Homo sapiens: one gene and its partners. The protein of the gene in region 3 purifies or fractionates together with the protein of the main gene of each other region. This does not show direct contact. Each region holds a gene or a part of one and is shown on either strand. Other genes may lie near its edges. The genes, in order: TJP2, LZTR1 and NUDT12.

Evidence for each region.
Region 1: the proteins of NUDT12 (region 3) and TJP2 purify together in Homo sapiens (affinity purification with mass spectrometry; 3 studies listed by BioGRID and IntAct, with this or other methods). This does not show direct contact.
Region 2: the proteins of NUDT12 (region 3) and LZTR1 purify together in Homo sapiens (affinity purification with mass spectrometry; 3 studies listed by BioGRID and IntAct, with this or other methods). This does not show direct contact.

What each region holds. Positions count from the first base shown.
Region 1 is NC_000009.12:69,172,617-69,176,363, reverse strand, and holds the start of TJP2 (tight junction protein 2), read right to left. Parts: upstream 2,088-3,747; 5' UTR 1,992-2,087; coding exon 1,932-1,991; intron 1-1,931. UniProt on the Homo sapiens protein: Plays a role in tight junctions and adherens junctions. Acts as a positive regulator of RANKL-induced osteoclast differentiation, potentially via mediating downstream transcriptional activity.
Region 2 is NC_000022.11:20,980,776-20,984,522, reverse strand, and holds the start of LZTR1 (leucine-zipper-like transcriptional regulator 1), read right to left. Parts: upstream 2,227-3,747; 5' UTR 2,152-2,226; coding exon 1,952-2,151; intron 1,497-1,951; coding exon 1,434-1,496; intron 1-1,433. Other genes in the region: AIFM3 (apoptosis-inducing factor 3), read right to left, coding at 3,492-3,531. UniProt on the Homo sapiens protein: Substrate-specific adapter of a BCR (BTB-CUL3-RBX1) E3 ubiquitin-protein ligase complex that mediates ubiquitination of Ras (K-Ras/KRAS, N-Ras/NRAS and H-Ras/HRAS).
Region 3 is NC_000005.10:103,561,203-103,564,949, reverse strand, and holds the start of NUDT12 (NAD-capped RNA hydrolase NUDT12), read left to right. Parts: upstream 1-2,160; 5' UTR 2,161-2,247; intron 2,248-3,747. UniProt on the Homo sapiens protein: mRNA decapping enzyme that specifically removes the nicotinamide adenine dinucleotide (NAD) cap from a subset of mRNAs by hydrolyzing the diphosphate linkage to produce nicotinamide mononucleotide (NMN) and 5' monophosphate mRNA.

The DNA of each region.
Region 1 (3,747 bases), on a different chromosome or scaffold from region 3:
TAAGAGTTTTCAGCACCCGTTTTGTTCCTATTACTAGCTACCACCATTTACGTAGCATCCACCACATGCCTTGTACTCTCTGTCATTTCATTCAGACCTCACTCAGCCCGGTGAGGTGGGCGCATTACTGGCCCCATTTTCTATAGTGGCTTGCTCGGGTGAGGTAACTGTTCAAATGCCCTTTATTCCCAGCAAGAATCCCCTGAAGGGAATGCATATAGGACCAATCCCACTCTTTGCTAAATTTCTGTATTGCAGAGTGTGCATCGGCATCATACATTCCCTCCCTCAGTCTCAGGAATCCCGACACAGATTGCAGAGTAAAGTCTAACAGTTTCAGGTCCACTAGACCCCTAAATGCAGAAATTGAATCTTGTTCATCTTTGTATCCCCCACAGTGACTGGCAGGAGTAGGGGCTCATTCAGTATTATAATATCTGGATGGTACTGAAAAAGTTACAGCAGCATTTCAGAGGGGAAAGTTCCCCTTCATCAATCTGCATAAGTAGCTCTGAAAAGAAATAAAGTGGCCCCACTGCAGAAGTAGTTCTGAAAAAAACACAAGAAACACCTCAAAAGCCACCGGTGCTTTAGTAAAGCACCTCCGCTTCTGCCATCTCCCCACAATGAGGAAGCTCCAGTACCCTGTCCACATTTCTAAATGGCACTCATCGGATTCTTAATGAGTTGCAGGCTTTCCCAACGGGACTGTGTGACAGAGCCACGCTCTTGCTCATCTGCGTAATCCCCACACTGAAGTGGAGTTGTTCATGAAAACTTACTAAATAATCAAATTTCATCCTCTCAAGCAGGATATGCAGTGGTACTTTGCTACAAATACATTTACCACTACGAATTTCTCACTTCAAGCGATCTCCTGCCCAGGTGTGTGCTCTCAGAAAATTACATCTCTTTCTGAATTACGCTGGCAAAGGTGGACCTGTTTTCCCAAAAGGACCGTCAGCACACCCAGCACAGACCACCTGGGGAGCTGAAGAAAACGACCTCCCTCCCTCCTCCCCGCTGGGATTCCCCGGGCTGAGAGCGTGAGTGAGAAGCGCAAGGCAGTTTCTATCATGGGATGACTCTCCGCTGGGAACTTCAGGGAAACCACAACCATCATTACTCAGGCCAGACAGCTGCCAGAAAAGCAGCCTAGCCTAAGAACTGAAGCTGAAATAGAGGTGGGAGGCTGTATTCCATTACTAAGCGCGGGAGCACTCACTCCCAAGTTTGTCCACATTTCAAGAATGTTAAAACCCTGTGGTAGAAATCCCTGATTATTTATAACTTAAACTACCGTGTAAAAGCAGAAACTTGACAAATGAAGACATAAAAAGAACTGGTGACAGGTAGGCTAGTACTAGAATACAAAGCATTCATCACACTCCTCTTTTGTGGGTCCTTCCAAACCTCCATCCCCATTCCCTACTGGAAAAAAAAAAAAAAAAAAACAACTTTTACTTCTATTACAGACGCAGCTGATTGAAAGGGAAAAGGGATTCTGCTCTGTGATGAGTTTTCAGTTTCTCTCACGTACACAAGCCTGTAACTTTGCATCAATACCGAGTGTGGTTTGAAATAGAGAAGGAAAACACAAAGACATGCAAGCGACACAACAGACACGAGATGCCTCCAAGCCAGCAGAAATCCAGGACACCGGGTTCAAGACAGTGTCCCCTACTCGCGCCTTAATCTCCAGCCCAAGTGACTTCAGAGTAAAGGTTCCAGGAGCCCCGGAGGCCACGAGTCATCAGCCCGGACGGTGAAACCTACCCCTCCCCTGCGTCCCACGTCCGGATGGGAGAATCCCAGCTTCCTACGGCGCATCGGGGAACAACTTCAGAGCAGCACGCGAGCAGAGCCCCCAGCGCTCCCACGCTCACGCTCACGACCCTCCTCCCAACCGCGCGGCACAAGGAGGCACTTACGCGGAGCCAACCTGACAGCTCCCGCCGGGGTGGAAACCCGCGGTCTCCTCGCACCGGCATTTCGGACACAGGTCCCGCGTAGGCGCGCAGCTCCGGACCCCGCTTCTGCTTCTGCTCCTGCTCCTACTCCTCCTGGGCACCACCGGACAGTGCTCTGACCCGCAGCCCAACCGCCGGGGTGCCGACCCGCGGGGACCCACCCCTTTGTCCCTCCTCCCGCGGCGGCGGCGGCGTCAGCCCGCCCCCGACCCGAGCGTGGCGCCTCCGCGCTGGCCGCCCGGCCCGGGAAACTGTCAAATTGGCCGCTACCACCCACGCGCCTGCCGGGGAAGGGCTCGCCGGCGCCGCGCCTTCGAGGCTCCTGCGGCGAACCGCGTCACGCGCGACTCCTGGCCGGGGGCGGGAGGCGGCGGCGGCGGCAGGAGAAGCCCAAGGCCCGAGCGGCCCGCAGCCCCCACGCCTGCACCCCTCCACCCCCGCCAGCCCGATGGTTCGCTCCGCGGCGTGCACTGGAGCAAGCAGGTCCCGCTCCGAGCGCGCGCGCTCTGGGAAGTGCTGCAAGTTTGGAGACCTGGAGTGAGCTCCGGGCGCTGCTGGCCCGACTGTCCGCGGTGTTTCCCCGGTGAGGTCGCGGGGGCATCCTGTAGGAAGACTTTTTGGCGAGGTTCGCAGGGCCTCACACAGGCAGCTTCAGTTCTCCTACGAAGAGTCGAACTGGGAAAACCTCAAAGTTTTAGGTCCTGTCTAGAGGCCTGCCCGGCTAACCAACACATACACGGCCTTGTACCCCACATTTCTCAGCCCAACAACTGCCTACCCGAATTCCGAGGGTTATAAGATGTTCGTATTAAATATTAAAACAGGACTTTTCAGGACAATATATTCCAGGTTATCTCTTTGGCACATTTCCAACAACTCCAATAAAGAGATTGAAACTCCTCTCCCATCATCAGCTTATAAAAGGTTGCCAGTAGGTCACAAGTGCTTATCTGACAGGATTCATCTAATGCAATTCAGTGTGCTTATTCCTTTCGAAGTCCTCCATGTGCAAAGAATTGTGCAGTGACGTTAAGTGTCTTTATTTTAAGAGCATATAAATTAATTTGGAGAATCCAAACAGGTACCGATTAAAAATATAACCTTGGGTTTGAAATCTTAAAAAACCATCTTGTAAGAGAATAGTTTTGCCTGCCCTGCTCTTCCCTTAATTGGAAAGCAAAACTCGTCCTAGGCTCACAAGTAGAAGGTAAAAGGTGTGGTCTGTCCCAGAGGAGATGCAGATGCTGGGCTCTCTCCCTGAAAAGTTGCTTCACTTCCTGCCTGATCAAAACAAGTCTAGAAGTTTCGTGGAAAAACAAGTCCAGTAGATGCCTCTCCAGAAGTGTTATGCTTCTGGACTCCTTTGGAGTAACTAAGTCCACGCCTCTGGATAAAAAGCACTGTGAGTAACGTTTCCCACTTTGCCTCGAGTCTCCGGACTTAGACATTTTGGTTGTATTCCTGATGTAAGGCATTGCTCTCCTGATCTAAGCACCTATTTATAAAATGTTTCCCAAATCTGGCCAGGCACGGTGGCTCATGCCTGTAATCCCAGCACTTTGGGAAGGCAAGGCAGGAGAATCACTTGAGCCCACGAGTTTGAGACCAGTCTGGGCAACATAGTGAGACCCCATCTCTATTTTTTAAAAATTGTTTTAATCAAAAAAAAGGAAAAAAAAATAAAATATTTCCCAAATTAGGTGGTGCTGACTAATAAAAATGATAGCACTTGAAAGGTGGCCACACCTTAATGATGTGGGCTTAGAGCCACTAACAT
Region 2 (3,747 bases), on a different chromosome or scaffold from region 3:
TCCTATTTCTTTGTCATACTGCAGCAAAAATGTTTCTGCTTATTGCTACACAGTTGTCACACAAACTACCTGCTAAGGACACTCTTGAGGATGAAGGTCCCCCATTTCCCACTTGCTGCCTTGTACTGGACACTAAAGCCCTTTCTGGTTTGGAGGGTTCTCATTAAGGCTGCAGTAAATGCTTGTGGGTAGGCATCTCTTCTTCATTTCATTCCTTCATTTGACAAACATTTATGGAGTTTTCTAGATGCCAGGATACAATGGTAAAAGGAGCACAGGCCCTGCCTTGACTGAAGAGATGGATAATAACCAACATCTGTGTGCCTCAGGAACAAATGAAGATGGTAAGAGGTATGGAGGGGAAGCAATGGTCTCCAGTTGGTCCAGATGGCCAAGTAAGGCCTCAGTCACAAGAAACATCAGAGGAGGGGCAGGAAGGTGAGAGGAGAGAATGGGCAGTGCAAGGGCCTGAGCAGGGGGGCACTTGGTACAATCCAAACATAGCAAGGCAGCCCGTGCCGCCCCAGTGCAGTGAGGGACTGAGGGCAGAGGAGCAGCAGACTCTCATGAGGACTTGGGCTTTTACTCAGAGAGGCAGGGAGGCATTACAGGAGGATGAGCCAAGGAGGAGCATACTCTGACTTGCTTTTGTAAATGGGCCCCACCGGCTACTCCTGGGGAAAGAGAGTGGGAGGAAGACAGGCTTGAAGCCAGGGGACCATGCCCAAGGAGGCTCTTCTGCCCAGTATGCAGATCCTGGTGGGGTCCAGACTACCCCACCATCCTCAAGCCCGCCCCCCAAGGAGGCCTACAGGACCAAGGCTGCAGAGCCAGTAAGAGGCCAGACCTTCCAGGGCTTCATGCTAGTTCCTGGGGCTGAGAGGCAGGGCTAGGACACATGGACACAACTAGTCATGTGCAAATACTCCACCCTCTGCATAAGGAAACCAGCCACAACTTAAGTGGAGACAGTTTATGTGAAAGGAGGTGTGCCCACCAACAAAACATCACGTTGTTGCCTGATGTTTGGAGCAATTTGGGAAAACCCCCACAAAAAGTGAAAAATGCATGAAATAAATAAAACTGTGTCCTCCATACCGATGAGGCACAGGGAAAGAAAAGTGCCTGGCAGGGCTGGCCGCAAGGGTGGTTGTGTTTCTTTCAAGGCTGCATCTACTCAGAAGAGGGACATTTCCACATACTGAGCATGTGCCACCCACTGGAAGCTGTGCTGAGGACCATGAGTGCAGGATCTCATTTAATCCTCACCACGACCAGGGAGGTGAGTGCAAGGAATCTCACAGATGGGGAAACTGAAGCTTAGAGGCACCAGCTAGCATCTGAAAGGACAGTAATGGAGCTGGACAGGCCCAGTCCCTGACCACAGTACTTCTCCCTACCTGGTCCAAACACTGATGCTGAGACTCACTCACCCATTGTCTCCACCAAATACATAAATGGCATCTTTATAGGCCACCACTGTGTGCTTGCTGCGCCTGGAAAGAAAGGAGTGGAGGGCGGTAAGGACAGGACCCTCCTGGGGGGCACCCAAGGAATGGGACTAAGCAGGAGAGCTGCCACGGAAGTTAGGTATCACCTCTCAACTGCTAAGATCCATCATCTTCTAAGATAACACCAATCATCCTGCAAGTGAGGACCCCTGACACGGCTCCAGGACTCTCTGGACTCCTCACCCCACCTCAGAGCACCTGGGACCCCAGCCCAATATCCACAAACACAACTTAGTTCCAGTACCCTGTCCCGGGACATCGGGCTCTGGGACTCCCTCGGAACCCTCTCCCCTGCCCTGAACAGCGTCCTGTACAGCACCATCCACCTCATTACCAGATCCTACCCCAGGACACCACCCCCCGGCTTCGCCCCTGGACCCGCCCTGGGACCCTCGCAGATCGCCCTTCCTGTCCTCAGGACCCCATGAAGCCCACCGTACCGGGCACCCACGAACTCGTCGCAGGGCGGGAGGCGCCGCCAGCGATGCACTGTTTCGAAGGGCCCGAAGTTGAGCGTCAGGTACTCGACACTGTCCGAGCAGCTATGGTCGAAGTCCACGCTCGGGGCTACCTTGGACCGCGCGCCGCCTGCCAGGGCCGCAGCCCCGATCTGCCCCCCCGTGCTGCCCGGTCCAGCCATCCCGGGTCCACGCCGGATCGGCCGCGCTGTAAGCCCAACTTGCGGCCACCGCCCCGGGCCGGCTGGAGAAACCACATTTCCCGGCGAGCCCTGCGCTGACGGTGCGGCACGTCCGGCCAGCGCCGCACTTGCGCCCTCCAGCTCTTCCCGACAAGCCTACCGCTTGCCGAGACACCGCGGGCGAGCGCAGGATGCGGTTGTCGACCGCGCGGCGAGCGTGGGACCTTCTGGGGAGCGTTTCAGGCTATGTACTGGCGCTGCGTTGTCCCTTCCAGTGAATGCAGTGTGTCGTCCCTAGCCCCGTCGCGACTGCTCTTCCCGGCGCCTCCCAGGCCCACGCAGCCCGAAGACCCGCGGCCGGCTCGCAGTTCCCGGCATGCCCTGGGTCTGCGCGTGGCTCCGGCCTGGATCGTCTGCCGCTGCCGGGATCCCCCATGGAGGGTTCCGGGCTCGCAGCGGCCTCTGCAGGCGGCTCAACGCTCCCTTTCCTGCTAGCGCCCTCAGCCCTGACCCCCAGCAACTCCCCTCTCCCCTTGGCTTTCTTACTGACTGAGAGGCAGCCCGGCGAGGAGCCTCTGGATTCTCATTCCTACTTAGCAGGGCCTCAGCTCCTTCACCTCCGACATGGGGATTGAGAATGCTCCGGCTATGAAAAGCATGGGGTCTGTCTCAGGACACAGCTCCCACAGCCCTAAGTGGGCAAATGCCCCAAAGTGTCAAGCATGAGCCACCTCTGAAGGAGCATTTACTATCTCAAGACCTTTGGGCATGTTGTCCCTTCTACCTGGAATACCCTTCCTTCAAAACTCAGAGCCAAAAGCAAAAAGCGTTCGCTGATCGCAGAGGGGGAGAGGGATGTGGGAGGGCTTGGGGCGCAGAATTAGTTGCTACCTCCTCTGGGCGTTCACAGGCCAAATTTCCTTGGTGTGGCACCTGGCATTCTGTGATTGTGCCTGTTTCCCTGTGGTCTGGTCCTGTGCCTATTGGCCCAATTACACTGGGAGTCATACAGATCTGCAAATTTGTGCGTTTTAATTTTACGGTAATGTTTAACGTGTTGCAGGGTTCTTCAGGGGACCAGTCCCAATAGAGGGAGAAGAGGCAGGGCTTGTCCTGCCTCCAGTGCCAGCTGTCAGTGGCAGCAGAGGCCTTGAGGGTTGAGCATCTTCTGGATCCAGCAGAGGCCTCCCAGGAGGGGAGCCAGGTGGCTGAAGGCAAGCACTGGGAGGGCTCAGGTTCTGCCCTGGGGGATCCTGGGACTGGAGATTGGCACCTGCCCCCAAGGCTTGGCCTGTGCCCTTGGTGCCCCCTTTGCCTGCCCAAGTCTACTGCATGTGAGCTCAGGATCCTTTCCCCGTAAGCCAGGACATGTCGCCAGTCCTGCAGGAGTGAGGGGAGGAGGGGTCAAGACAGAAGAAAACAGGCTCTCCACTCTGGGCACCCTGAACAGCTGGCCCTTGAGGACAGCAGGGGGTCTGTTCTGTGCCAGACCCTAGTGCCCAGCAGGGAGGTGTACTTGGACAGAGGGAGATAAGACCATTGGGTGGAGGGTCTGGGCTGACATGGGAAAGGCTCAGAACGGTCAACATGAAGGAC
Region 3 (3,747 bases):
ATTAGCTGAAAAGTTGATGGAAAAATTTATAATATATTTATCATAAATTTAATATTTAAATAATATAATTATATTTATCATAATTATATATCAATGTCATATATTTATCATAAACATTTACCATATTTTTATAATATTTATATTATTATTTATCATACATGTTATCAGGTTGACAACATCTGAACCCAATGATCAAGTATAACATTAAAAAAAGAGAGACAACCAGAAGTTGTAAGCCTCTTGAAGTAATTCAATACAAAGTAAACTGTAACACCTATAAAGTCTTTTGTGAAAAAAAATCAAACTTTAATCTGAGTAATTCTATAAAGTTAACTACCAGTTTGCAAGAAATACAGGGGGAAAGGACAGCACAGGAATAAAATCTGCAAAATTCAGAATGTGGAAAATTCTACAGAACAAATGATCATTACTCTTTAGTAAATAAACTGCCAGAAAAAAAGGGGAAGAGGAAGGAATCCATAGATTTTTAAAAATCAAATGTGATGTGGAGACTTTGTTCAGATGAATCAACTGAAAAACATATAAAACTTCTGAGGCAAGTGAGTAAATTTGATATTGAATGTTTCTTTTATGTTATTACAGAATTATTGTTAAATTTGTAATACTAGGGATATTGAAGTTGTGTTGTTTTTCAAAGCCCTTATATTTTAGATATAATACATATTTCCAAAAAGTTTACTCTTAAATATTTGTCATCAAAACAATATGGGGTCTGGAATTTACTTCAAAACAATCCTAACAACTGGGAGAACTATATATTAATAGTTGTTGACTCTGGATCATTAATACACGAGGGTTCACTATACTAATCTAACATATGTTTGAATGCAAAGATTGGGTACTCCAAGTGAAGTAACTAATCCTTTCTGACCACCTGTCTGGTCACTGAAATCATTAAAGGCTGAAAACAACTAGTCACATAAAGAAGCATAGGGCGGCCGGGTGCAGTGGCTCGCGCCTGTAATCCCAGCACTTTGGGAGGCCAAGGCGGATGGATCACCTGAGGTCAGGAGTTCCAGACCAGCCTGGCCAACATGGCAAAAACCTGTCTCTACTAAAAATACAAAAATTAGCTGGGCCTGGTGGCGCACACCTGTAATCCCAGCTACTCGGGAGACTGAGGCAGGAGAATCACTTGAAACCCCGGGAGGCGGAGGTTGCAGTGAGCCAAGATCGCACTACTGCACTCCAGCCTGGGTGACAGAGTGAGAACCCATCTAAAAAAAAGAAAAAAAAAAAAAAAACAGCAGCACAGGGCGTTAGAAGCCCTCATGATCAATGTCAACTGGTGCATACAGCTTCACAGTGAGAAGGAGCTTCCAAGGGTAAAATCTGGGTGGGAAACAGTGATCAATTGTAAGAGACCCCTGTAGCTGTTGCTGATTACCAAGGAGAGAGTTTAGTAAAGGAAAAAGCCCTGGTCTGGAAGTTAGAAGACCGCCAACACCTAGTTTTGTAATCTCGGACTCATAACTTCTGTAGGTTTTGGAGCATAAAAGCACAGGAACTGAAATAAAAAATAACGACAATAATTTTGTTGTGGGTGCCCACTCTGCACTTCACAACATCCTAAGAGCTTTGGATACATTATCCTATTTACACCTCACAACCCAAGGAGGTGTTTTGCGCGCTTGATACATACTTTTTAAAGGACTACTGAATAAGTTAGGCGTCAGTATATGATACCAGTTTTCCCATGGGGTGAATGATTAAGGTGTTACAGAGGCCGAATATCTCGTTTAAGAGTGACTTGGTCTAGTCAATAGTCCAGGATTATTTAACAGGAAAGAATGCTTTGAGCACTCAATTGCATTGGACTGTATTGGAGAGAGGGCTAGGAGTTGGGTGGGAGACGCTGGAAAATTTAAAATCGTTTCCTTAGGCCTACAGTTTTCCGATCGCCTGCACCACGTTCTATCTACACATCACAGTCTCAGGAGAAGGATTTTCAGCCCTTCATTCAGCTCCAATCCTTTAGACCGCGATCTCTCCCGCGCCGGCTCCCAAACACTTCCACCCCCAATCTCCACCCCTTCTCCCTTGCGCACAACCTGTGGGCTTCAAACTACATCTCCCATAAAACCGCGGGGGCCCCCCTCCCGCCCCCCCCCCACCCCCGGATCTCCACCGGAAGTCGGGAAGACTGCATCCGGCTCCAGGAAAAGCGAGTGGGATATCCCAATCTTTGGACTGCATCCTGGTTGCCTCTACTGTGGTCACCTTTGGGTTAGTAGAAGCAGTGGGGAGTTAGTCGTCTCATTGCCTCCTCTGGGGGCGGTGACCACTTCCCTGGGCTCTTTGGTTCCCGCGCTGCCCTGCGTGGCCCTGCTGAGTTGTGTGGCGGAGCCTCGTAGTGGTTTGGTGGGCGCAGGCGCGGGAGCCACGGACGCATTTGCAGGGGCTCCCGCGACAGGGCGGAGGTGCGGCGGTACTGAGGTCGTAGAGTTTCCTGCCCAAGCTGAGATGGGGAAAAGGAAGCGCTACTTAGGGTGTGATTTCACCTCGAAAGAAGGAATCTCACAGTAGTGGCAAGAAAGTAAAATATCTTAAGGCATTTTACCATTTTCAGAGACCGTGCACGGGTGGCACTTAATTGGTCTTGAGTGCCCAGGGAGTGGATGAAATTCGTTAATTGATGGTCAGTGATTTCAGTGACAGAGCGATATTTAAGGTCCTGTCCTGTCCCATTCGGTCTGTGTGAGCATGCGGAAGTCATGGGCCCCGGGTTACATGTCAGTAAAAGTGGATGTTGGTTTGTTAAAAATTTATGTCCCTTTACATCTAATATTCTTTTAAATGATTTCTCGGAATAGTCCTTGAGCTTCTTGGAAAACAAGGGCAGCACTTTATTCTGCCTTCAAATCTTTACCTTCTATAACCTGTCAATGAGAATTGAAAAAGTAAATCAAACAGTAGAATTGGGTGTTAGACTTTATGTGCTTCTCTGGAATGAATAATGGTACTATTTCTAGATGGCTTTTCTGCTGAGAAAGCTAGAGGGAAAAGTGTACACTTTCCACTTCCCATCTCCACAGAATAGCATATGCATAAGCATTGCCCTGGAGGTAGTGAATGACGCTGTATTTTTGAAGGACAATTTTGCAGTTACCTGGCGCGGCCTGTGAGAATGTGAGGGAGTGACGGTGACCCCAGAACATGAGACAGTGAAATATTATTCAAACTAAACCTAGCTGAAAAAACTATAATATGGGTTTTTGGAAAATAAACTTAAGAGAAAGACAATTTGGAAGGGAGATCAGTACAGGAGCTGTACAGCAGTGCTTCAAAATAAAGTCCTGAAAATTTGTAGCTTTTGTTATGCATAGTATTTTTAACGTATGTAGAAATTTCAATATGAAAGGAACAGCGAAGTAAATTCTAGAATAAATCAAAAATTATTCTGTCATGTAGATATTACTTCTGGTAATTTAATTTCTAAACAGATTTCCACTGTTAGGTTTCATCCAAGTGTTTCCATGACTGTGAGCAGTTTTAACCTATTTATAAGTAGCAGAAAGACACAAATAGGAAAGGTGAACAGCTCCAAAATGAGACAATTAATCTTTACTCCTTGTTTTCCCTAAATTTTGTTCATACTATTCCTGCTATGCAATTCATCAGCCAGATCGCCCTTTCAGAACCCAGGAGACAGCAGCTATCAAAAACTATGGGCTATAACCTTTCTGTCTTTTTAGCTTAAAAATCTTATTGCTTAGAATGATAGAA